Regions from separate parts of the Homo sapiens genome. Here region 2 is linked to region 1. The links come from fine-mapping of genetic effects on gene expression. A gene starts in region 1. The other region holds a variant in brackets. All regions are shown on one strand. Distances are from middle to middle. Region 1 holds the start of LINC02288 (long intergenic non-protein coding RNA 2288). Region 2 overlaps LINC02288 (long intergenic non-protein coding RNA 2288).

Evidence for each region. PIP is the estimated chance that this variant, and not a neighbour inherited with it, causes the effect. A credible set is the group of variants that fine-mapping cannot tell apart.
Region 2: its variant is the best candidate, but not a certain one, in a credible set for the expression of LINC02288 in whole blood (TOPMed, PIP 0.54).

Annotation. Positions count from the first base shown.
Region 1 is chr14:77,039,111-77,043,496 of GRCh38, forward strand. It overlaps LINC02288 (long intergenic non-protein coding RNA 2288), which reads left to right and starts at 1,939. Exons shown (of 4, transcript NR_110554.1): 1 at 1,939-2,167. RefSeq lists a silencer at 1,112-1,301 and enhancers at 1,411-2,142, 1,418-4,386, 1,552-1,641.
Region 2 is chr14:77,048,494-77,052,879 of GRCh38, forward strand. The region is part of intron 1 of LINC02288 (long intergenic non-protein coding RNA 2288); the gene reads left to right. Among named protein-coding and RNA genes, the nearest start is that of LINC02288, 9.6 kb to the left of the region's middle. The variant A/C (reference allele first, on the strand shown) is at 2,554.

The DNA of each region.
Region 1 (4,386 bases):
CTGCAGCCTGGGAGCTGAAGACAGGGACACGAAACATCCCTGTGTCTGGGAGGTGCCCTTCTGAAAGAGGCAGGAGATGGGTATTTGCTCTCACCAGGCTCCTCTCCTTCAGGATTTTTTTTTTTCTAATTCATTGCAAGATGGAGTTTTTTTTTAAAAAATTGGCACTGATAAAAGCCAAGGATAGAAAACTCCCCATAAAACACGGCCCCCCAAGGGAAGTGCAAAACCCATTTGATGCAAAATATAGATATCTTCACCCTGGATTTTTCCCCCTTTGCTTTACAACTCTGCAGACATCAGGTTAGCAAAAGGTAATAAATAGTCCTTGCACAGCAGGGTCTGGACTAGTGAAAACAGTTTACTGAAATTAATGGGCCTCGTTTGAACCAAAACCTCCACTTTGGAATTAATGCCAGACATAGTTTTCCTGAACTCTATCCAACCGCCTAAGCGGCAGACAATTTTCATTCTATTTGTGCTGGAAAATAAAGCCCAAGCCCTTGATCTCAGTGTAGATTTTCATTAAAAAAAAAAAAAAAGTACAGTGAATACTATGCCAATTTCCACTTTCTGCCCATAGAAGCCCTTGTGCTCTGGGCTGTGCGTGACGGTCAGAAGTTATCTGGTAAACTTTGCATTGAAAAGCATCTCCGAACTCCCTCCCCATCTGTGGCCTCACAGCTTTCACCATGACATCTGAGAGATTCAAGGAAAGCTCCAGAAACAGGCTTAGCTCTCAATAACAACCCTCTTCCCTACAGATCTTAGAAAGGCTGGATCTGAACAACGCTGCCTGCAAGACCTCCATTCCCACCCTAAATAAAGCGCCAAACCATCCAACCGAAACCCACCCCTCCTCCCCTGGTACTCAGGGTGTCTACAGCTCTGAGGCTCCCTTTATTTTTATTTTTATTAATGTATTTTTAAGGCTGAAAGGCACACACACCACACGCATTCACACCCAGTGGTTATGGGGTTTTGGCAGGTACGCGGAGACCCGGTGCCCCAGCTGTCAGTGTCTGATCCCAACCCCTCCTCCTCCTCCCTCCGTTATTTATTAATAAAAGCCTGGTCGTGGGCAGCCGGCGTTCTGGTTTTCATTGTACAGTCTGCACTGGTGACACAGGACATGTGGAAAATTTTGAGAGCACTGCGGTGAATAGTGTGGAGGGGGAGCGTGAGCAGGGGGAGGGGAGGGGAGGGAGGGGAGCGAGTTACTTTTTAGCTTCCGCTAAGTACTTGGCGGCTCGCCAGGCCCGGAGAATTGTGGGAAGCGAAAACCTCCCCAGTATAAACTGCCAGCTTTAAGCAGCCCTGACAGTTCTGCTCCTTCCAAACTTGGCAGCCGTTCAAAGTGCTCTTTCATTTGAAATGCTGGAAGCCTGCCATGTGCAATGCAGATTTGCTGTGCCTGTGCGCAGAAGGAACTGATAAATGCCGTTGCAGTTGCCATGGGGACAGGAGGCTATCAGAATGGCCTTGTGATCCGCAGCCTCTCTGCGCGGCAGGCTCTCGTTCTCCCCCTCCCGCCCCTCCTCCCTCTAGTCAGTGAGATGGTGAAATAAATGTTCTGGAAAAAGGTTAACCCTCCCCGCTCTGGTTCCGAGGGTGAGAGGAGGTTAACCTCTAAGCACTTCCTTGGCCTTAAGTGCCAGCCCGGAGCACAGGTGTCAGCGCCGTCCTTGGGTGGGTCACCATCCTCCCGCTCTCCTCTTTCACACCCCCAGCTTTCTTCCTGCTCCCTGGGGGCTTTCACAAAGCGGTATTTTTAATAGAGGCTTTTCAGCAAGCTCAAGTGTAAGTCTTTGAGTCATCAAAACCCGGATGTAAACACAGCAGCCCTGCATTCTGCACAGTTTGCGTGTATTTTATCTTTTTAATAATATTTAGCTGGCAACTTAAAACTGCAAGGATGCCAGATATTTTAGCCAGCCACTTACATCATGCAGCATCCATCTTGGGGAGAGTGGTGGCGGGTCCTTTCCTTGTTCTCTTGCTCCCTGCCGCCTACCTGAGACCGCAGGAAATCTGGGTCTTTCTGAAGGCATCTTCTTGTGGTGTAGTCCCCTTGGAACCGCGGCCTTTAGAATGAACATGACATCACCTTGGGCAACAACGACAGAGGGTGTGTTCCTGTAGGAGACAAGACACGGGGAGATCCAAGGTGAAACAGATCTATCATTTACGCTGCGCCAATTTCAGGTGTGTGAGGGTGCACAGTCTGGATCATCAGCCCCCCATTTAGCACGAACTGCCGTTTGAAACACAGTCTGATTTAATGTACAGAAACAAAATAGCACATTCAGATTTGGTATATTTTCAGGCCTGTAATGCCAACACTCCGGGTGGCCTGTTTAATGGGGAAAAAATGAAATATTCCACTCCAGCCCAGGCCTATGGAAACCAAAGAGGTTTAGTGATTTATTTACATTGGGGGTAAAAACGGTGAGCAGTATTCCTTCTCGGCTCGCTACTTCCTGAAGGTTTCCTGAACCTAAACATTCGTTAACATCCCAGGAAGGGAACTTATTTTTCCTGTGGCTTTCAATATTTTCTGCTAAATATATTTCGGCACACTGTTTATCTTGGGCTTCAGCTTTCAGACCTTTATGCACTTTTAACACCTTGAGGCTGTTTCACTGAAAAATGGTGTATGTTAATTAAAGAGGACTTTATGTGCTGGGCATTAAGGCAGGGGGGATTTCTGTTTTGATCTGTCTGTATAATGAGGGGCTTCAGGATGAAACACAAGTCAGAGGCCTGTTAGCTTCGTGAAGCCCTTTTGACAAAGCGGGACCTTGAATGTGGGCCCTTGTATTCAAACACTTGAAGACCACAGAATGTTGAACTGAACGAAACATTTCTTCCTAAGTGCATGGTGAACATGGAGGCCAGGAGACGAGAAAGACTGAAAATGCCCCAAGTTCCTGGGGCTTAGCTGCAATTTCTTTGAACTTGACTGTCTCTGGGTGTCTGCTCGTGATTGTCACGGCAGCTCTGGCCAAGGCGATGCACTCTGTCTCGCTGGAATTTCCTGATTCCAAAGTAGCCCCTTCCAAATAAATAATCAACAAACGCCATCTGCTTCACCTTGCCAGCAGGCACAGAGCTGAAGGGTTAGCTAAAACCTACAATTTTTAGGAGCAGTAGGCTCTTGAGACATTTCAAGATAGGTTTCGACTTGGAATTAAACTAGAGTTAGAGGCAGAAATCAGGTGATTCAGAAAGCAACCCCCCCTCCCTCCCGCCAACTTCCCCAGACAGTCCAGGCAGCTGGGTTTTTGGCTCTCACAGCTGCTAAGCTTTGGCAAGCCAAAAGCATATTTCGTGGTGGTGATTCCTTTCCCAGGTTGACGGACATGTTTCTGTACTGAGCACAAGGCATGTTTCCTGACCGTGTGTGAATCAGAGGCTGCATTTTTATCCAGGGCTTCTGGTGACAGTTTTAAGCTGGATGAACAAAGCAGACCCTGACATGTCCCTGTCATCAAGGTCAAGAGATACAGAATCTATCCTAAATGTTCGCCACCTCTAGCCCAGATGTATTATATTTATTTATTTTTGTTTTGTTTTGTTTTTTGAGGCGGTGTCTTCCTCTGTCGCCCAGGCTGGAGTGCAGTGGGGCAGTCTCAGCTCACTGCAACCTCCGCCTCCCGGGTTCAAGCAATTCTCTTGCCTCAGCCTCCCGAGTAGCTGGGATTACAGGCACGTGCTATCATGCCTGGCTACTTTTTTTGTATTTTTAGTAGAGACAGGGTTTTGCCATGTTGGCCGGGCTGGTCTCGAACTCCTGACCTCAGGCGATCTGCCCTCCTCAGCTTCCCAAAGTTTCTGGGATTACAGGCATGAGCCACCACACCCGGCTATTTTTTTTTTAATCATGCCAAGAGCAGCCACCACCCCACAAGTCAATGGATGCCCATGTTCATGTGTCAGATGTTACCCTTCTCTCTCTCAGTGTTTTTGTAGTGTTTGCTTCTTTGTTGGCTTTGGTGAGAAGATTTACAAAAGCCATTTTGGACCCTTGAGTGCCTTTCCAGATCGAGGCAAGCTCCAAGATTCCAAACAGCCTTGACCTCGTCTGTGTCGCCCCATTATAGCAGGGATGATAACCGGAGGGGAGTCCTTGGTGTAGCCCCTCCATACCAGGGCCCGGAGAGCCAGCTTCCCAGAAATCCATGGATTAGGAAACTCTGTCGTGGGCCAGTTCAGGAGCGGCAGGGGGAACAACTCCCTTTTGTTTTGTTGTCTAGCATGTGACCAGAATGCTGCCAGCTAATTTTAACCCCACCAAAGTACTGCTGGGAAAAAAAAAAAAAAAACTATCTTGCATCTGGAGAGAGAAATGCTGTGGGCTGGATAAAAGCTTTTCAGCCTGTGTTC
Region 2 (4,386 bases), 9.4 kb after region 1:
TTTCTTCCTTAGTGCCCTGAATTTGTTTCAGGAGTCCCACACCCCTCAGTTCCACGTGCCTTGGGGGGAAATCCCAATTAGTCTGAGCTAATCTTAGCATCCCATCCCCCTTGCTAACACTTTGGGGATGGATCTGTGACCGAGTTCTGGTGAATAAGACATGGGAGTTGGGGGCTTGTTTTAGGAAATATTTTCATATTTTCTCAATCTTTTTTTTTTTTTCTTTTTTTTTTTTTTTGAGACGGAGTCTTGCTCTGCCGCCCAGGCTGGAGTGCAGTGGCGCGATCTCCGCTCACTGCAAGCACTGCCTCCCGGGTTCACGCGGTTCTCCTGCCTCAGCCTCCCGAGTAGCTGGGACGACAGGCGCCCGCCACCACGCCCGGCTAATTTTTTGTATTTTTAGTAGAGACGGTGTTTCGCCGTGTTAGCCAGGATGGTCTCGATCTGCTGACCTCGTGATCCGCCCGCTTCGGCCTCCCAAAGTGCTGGGATTACAGGCGTGAGCCACCGCGCCTGGCCATATTTTCTCAATCTTAAAACATGAGAGAGAGAGAAACAATTGTCTTTCTTTCTTTTTTTTTTTTTTTTTTTTTTTTTTTTTTTGAGACACAGTCTCACTCTGTCACCCAGGCTGGAGTGAAGTGGCGGGATCTCAGCTCACTGCAACCTCCACCTCTGGGGCTCAAGCGATTCTTCTGCCTCAGCCTCCCAAGTAGCTGGGATTACAGGCGCCTGCCACCATGCCCAGCTAATTTTTGTATTTTTAGTAGAGACAGGGTTTTACCATGTTGGCCAGGCTGGTCTCGAATTCCCGACCTCAGGTAATCCACCCACCTCGGCCTCCCAAAATGGTGGGATTACAGGCATGAGCCACCGCGCCCAGCCAAACAATTGTCTTTCTGTAGCTGTATGTGTGTCTGCAGTGATGATGGCTGGGGCTACAGCAGCCATCTTGCTATGATGAAGGCAGCCATTCAGAGAACTAAGTCAACACACTAAAGATGATAGAATGGAGGCCGGGTGCGGTGGCTCACGCCTGTAATCCCAGCACTTTGGGAGGCCGAGGTGGGCAGATCACGAGGTCAGGATATCGAGACCATCCTGGCTAACATGGTGAAACCCCGTCTCTACTAAAAATACAAAAAATTAGCCGGGCATGGTGGCGGGCCCCTGTAGTCCCAGCTGAGGCCGAGGCAGGAGAATGGCGTGAACCCGGAAGGCGGAGCTTGCAGTGAGCGGAGATCGCGCTACTGCACTCCAACGTAGGCAACAGAGCGAGACTCCGTCTCAAAAAAAAAAAAAAAAAAAAAAAAAAAAAAGAGAGATGATAGAATGGAAGGAAATGTGGAAAGAACATTAGTCTGGTGGCACAGTTCAGCAGCTGGATTACTCTGCCCTGGAGCCACCCACATCTGGACTATTTCCATCAATTCCTTCATTGTTCAGTGAGGGACCCCTGGCTCGATCCAGTGGAACCAAGGTTTCTGTGACTTGCAGCCAAAAGCATCCTAACAATCAACTTCGCAGGGTTGCTGTGATGACTAAATAAAGTAAAATTGGCCAGGCGAGGTAGCTCATGCCTATAATCCCAGCACTTTGGGAGGCTGAGGCGGGTGGATCACCTGAGGTCGGGAGTTCTAGGCCAGCCTGGCCAACATGGTGAAACCCCGTCTCTACTAAAAATATAAAAATTAGCTGGGCATGCTGATGGGCACCAGTAATCCCAGCTACTTGGGAGGCTGAGGCAGGAGAATCACTTGAACCTGGGAGGCAGAGGTTGCAGTGAGCAGAGACCACGCCATTGCACTCCAGCCTGGGCAACAAGAGGAAAACTCTGTCTAAAAAAAAAAAAAAAAAAATTGAAAAAGTGCCTGACAGGGTCTGGCACATAGTAGGTTCTCAAAGATTGAAGACTCTCCTGCTGAGATGTTCTGGGATGAATGCACGAATGACTATGAAGAGTGGTCCAGAGAACATGGCAGATGGTAATAAAGGTTAGAGCAGTTCAGAAGTGGGTGGGTGCTAGAACGATGAAGATGACAATGACGATGAAATTCAAACATTATGTTAGTAAATGTCCTAATGGAACTTCTTGGGGCTGTAACAATGGTTCTCCTTTTTACTTCTAATGCCTTTTCTTACCCGGCTCAGAATTAGACATTGCATATACAGGCTTTTCTAATTGTAAGTGGCCACGCTTGTACAATTAGGGTGGTCCTTAATTACCCTGGGGCATGGAAGCCCTGCTACAGGATAAAGGCAAGAGTGTACTTTTTTTTTTTTTTTTTTTTTTTTGAGACAGAGTCTTGCTCTGTCACTCAGGCTGGAGTGTAGTGGCACGATCTCTGCTCACTGCAACTTCCACCTCCCAGGCTCAAGCGATGTTGTGCCTCAGACTCCCAAGTATCTGGGATTACAGGCGTGTGACACCATCCGGCTAATTTTTGTATTTTTAGTAGAGACGAGATTTTGCTATGTTGGCCAGGCTGGTCTCGAACTCCTGGCCTCAAGTGATCCACCCTCCTCATCCTCCCAAAGTGCTGGGATTACAGG[A/C]ATGAACCACTGAGCCCAGACTTTAGCGTATAATTTGTAGCTCCAGGAGGAGCCAAGATTTGAAAGCAGAACCATCATACCCACACAACGTAAAGCAGGGCCTTTGACTTGCCAAAAGCACACCAAGTCCGTCCTCCCTGAGAGACCCAGAGAAGCCCAGCAGACCTCTCCAGCTCGGGTGGGGCTGCCTCTGGGGGCTGCCTGGCTTTTGGCCAGCTGACCAGGCCATGGAGTGTTGCTCCCTGCCAGCCCCACAGCCCTTTCGAACCTCGTTCCAGGAGAGCTCAGCCACACCAGTGTCTGCCAGACTCATGTCCGTCCAGCTGTGTGGGCGGCCCTGGCAGCAGGGGACAGGGCAGGGTTTGTGCAAGGACATTGTGGCACCCACAGCAGGGCGTGGGAGAGGCGGTGGCTCACTTCAGGGACGAGTCAGGAAGGAACGTGGAAGAGATGGGGAGCAGAAGCCACAAACTCAAGGCAGCCTCAGCTGCCTTCTCAAAGGCCGCCTTCACCTTAGAAGCTTGTTCCAGGGTCTCCTTTCCTGCTTGCCCCTCCCCTGTTGAGCTGGGTTCAGCACAGCCCTGCTTCGATGCTCAATTCTTTTTTTTTTTTTTTTTTTTTTTTGGCAACAGAGTTTCGCTCTTTCGCCCAGGCTGGAGTGAAGTGGCGTGATCTCATCTCACTGCAACCTCTGCCTCCCGGGTTCAAGTGATTCTCCTGCCTCAGCCTCCCAAGTAGCTGGGACTACAGGCATGCACCACCACGCCCGGCTAATTTTATAATTTTAGTAGAGACGGGGTTTCACCATGTTGGCCAGGCTGGTCTCAAACTCCCGACCTCAGGTGATCCACCCACCTCAGCCTCCCAAAGTGCTGGGATTACAGGCATAAGTCACCGCGCCTGGCCACTGACGCTCAAGTCTGTTCACCAAATCTTTATTGAGAATACTTTATGTAAGATGCCATATTCCTCCTGGCTAATGGTGGGGTGGGGTGAGAGATACCGAGAGCAAGATCAGAGTAGAAAGGACCTCAGAATGGCCTTTAAACTTGGGTGCCTCAGAACTCCAAAGCCCAAGTATTTAAGAAAGAAAAAAAGACTGCTGCAGTTTAATCTAGGGCAGGGATAGGGTCCTGTCCACTCTGCCTTGAGTCAGAGACTCCATGGATAACATCCAAACAACCCTGACCCAGACCAGGGGGGGATATAGAAGCCCAGAGAGGTGAAATGACCTCCCTCAGTCACACAGCAAGTTGGAGGCCCACTCAGGTTCAAAGTCAAGCCCAGTGCCTCGTCCATTGTACTGTCCTACCCCTTGGCACTTGTTTCAGAGATCAGCTGCGGAGATGGGGCGAGTCACCCAGGAACAGACAGACACACTTGCTACAGACTAAAGAGAACAAGTGGTTCTAACTCAGGATGGCAAAGGCTCCCCGGAAGAGGGGCAGGGAGCCGGGCCTAGGGCAGCATGGGCAGGATTGCTCATGGCACATGGCAGGGGTGGGGAGAGAGGTGGATGTGAGGAAGGAGGCAATTCCAGGCCTCAGAGAACATGATCTGCTAGCGCCTGAAGAAAGACTGGCAATCCAGAGAGCTGGGTTCCAGCCCTGGCTCTGCCGTGACAAGCCCCTGGGCCAGGGGCCTCCCCTTTGGGCCAGTTTCCTTGCATGTAAAATGGCAAAGAGGGTGGGCTAGTTGGCCCTACTGTGACATGCTAGGAAGCCTTCTCTCCTCCCACCACCACCAACACCACCCAGGACACTCCCCAGTGTGTGCCAGGTGTCTGGAATTGACACCAGGAGGGAGTGTCCCTGGCTGCCCTGTGGCACAGCA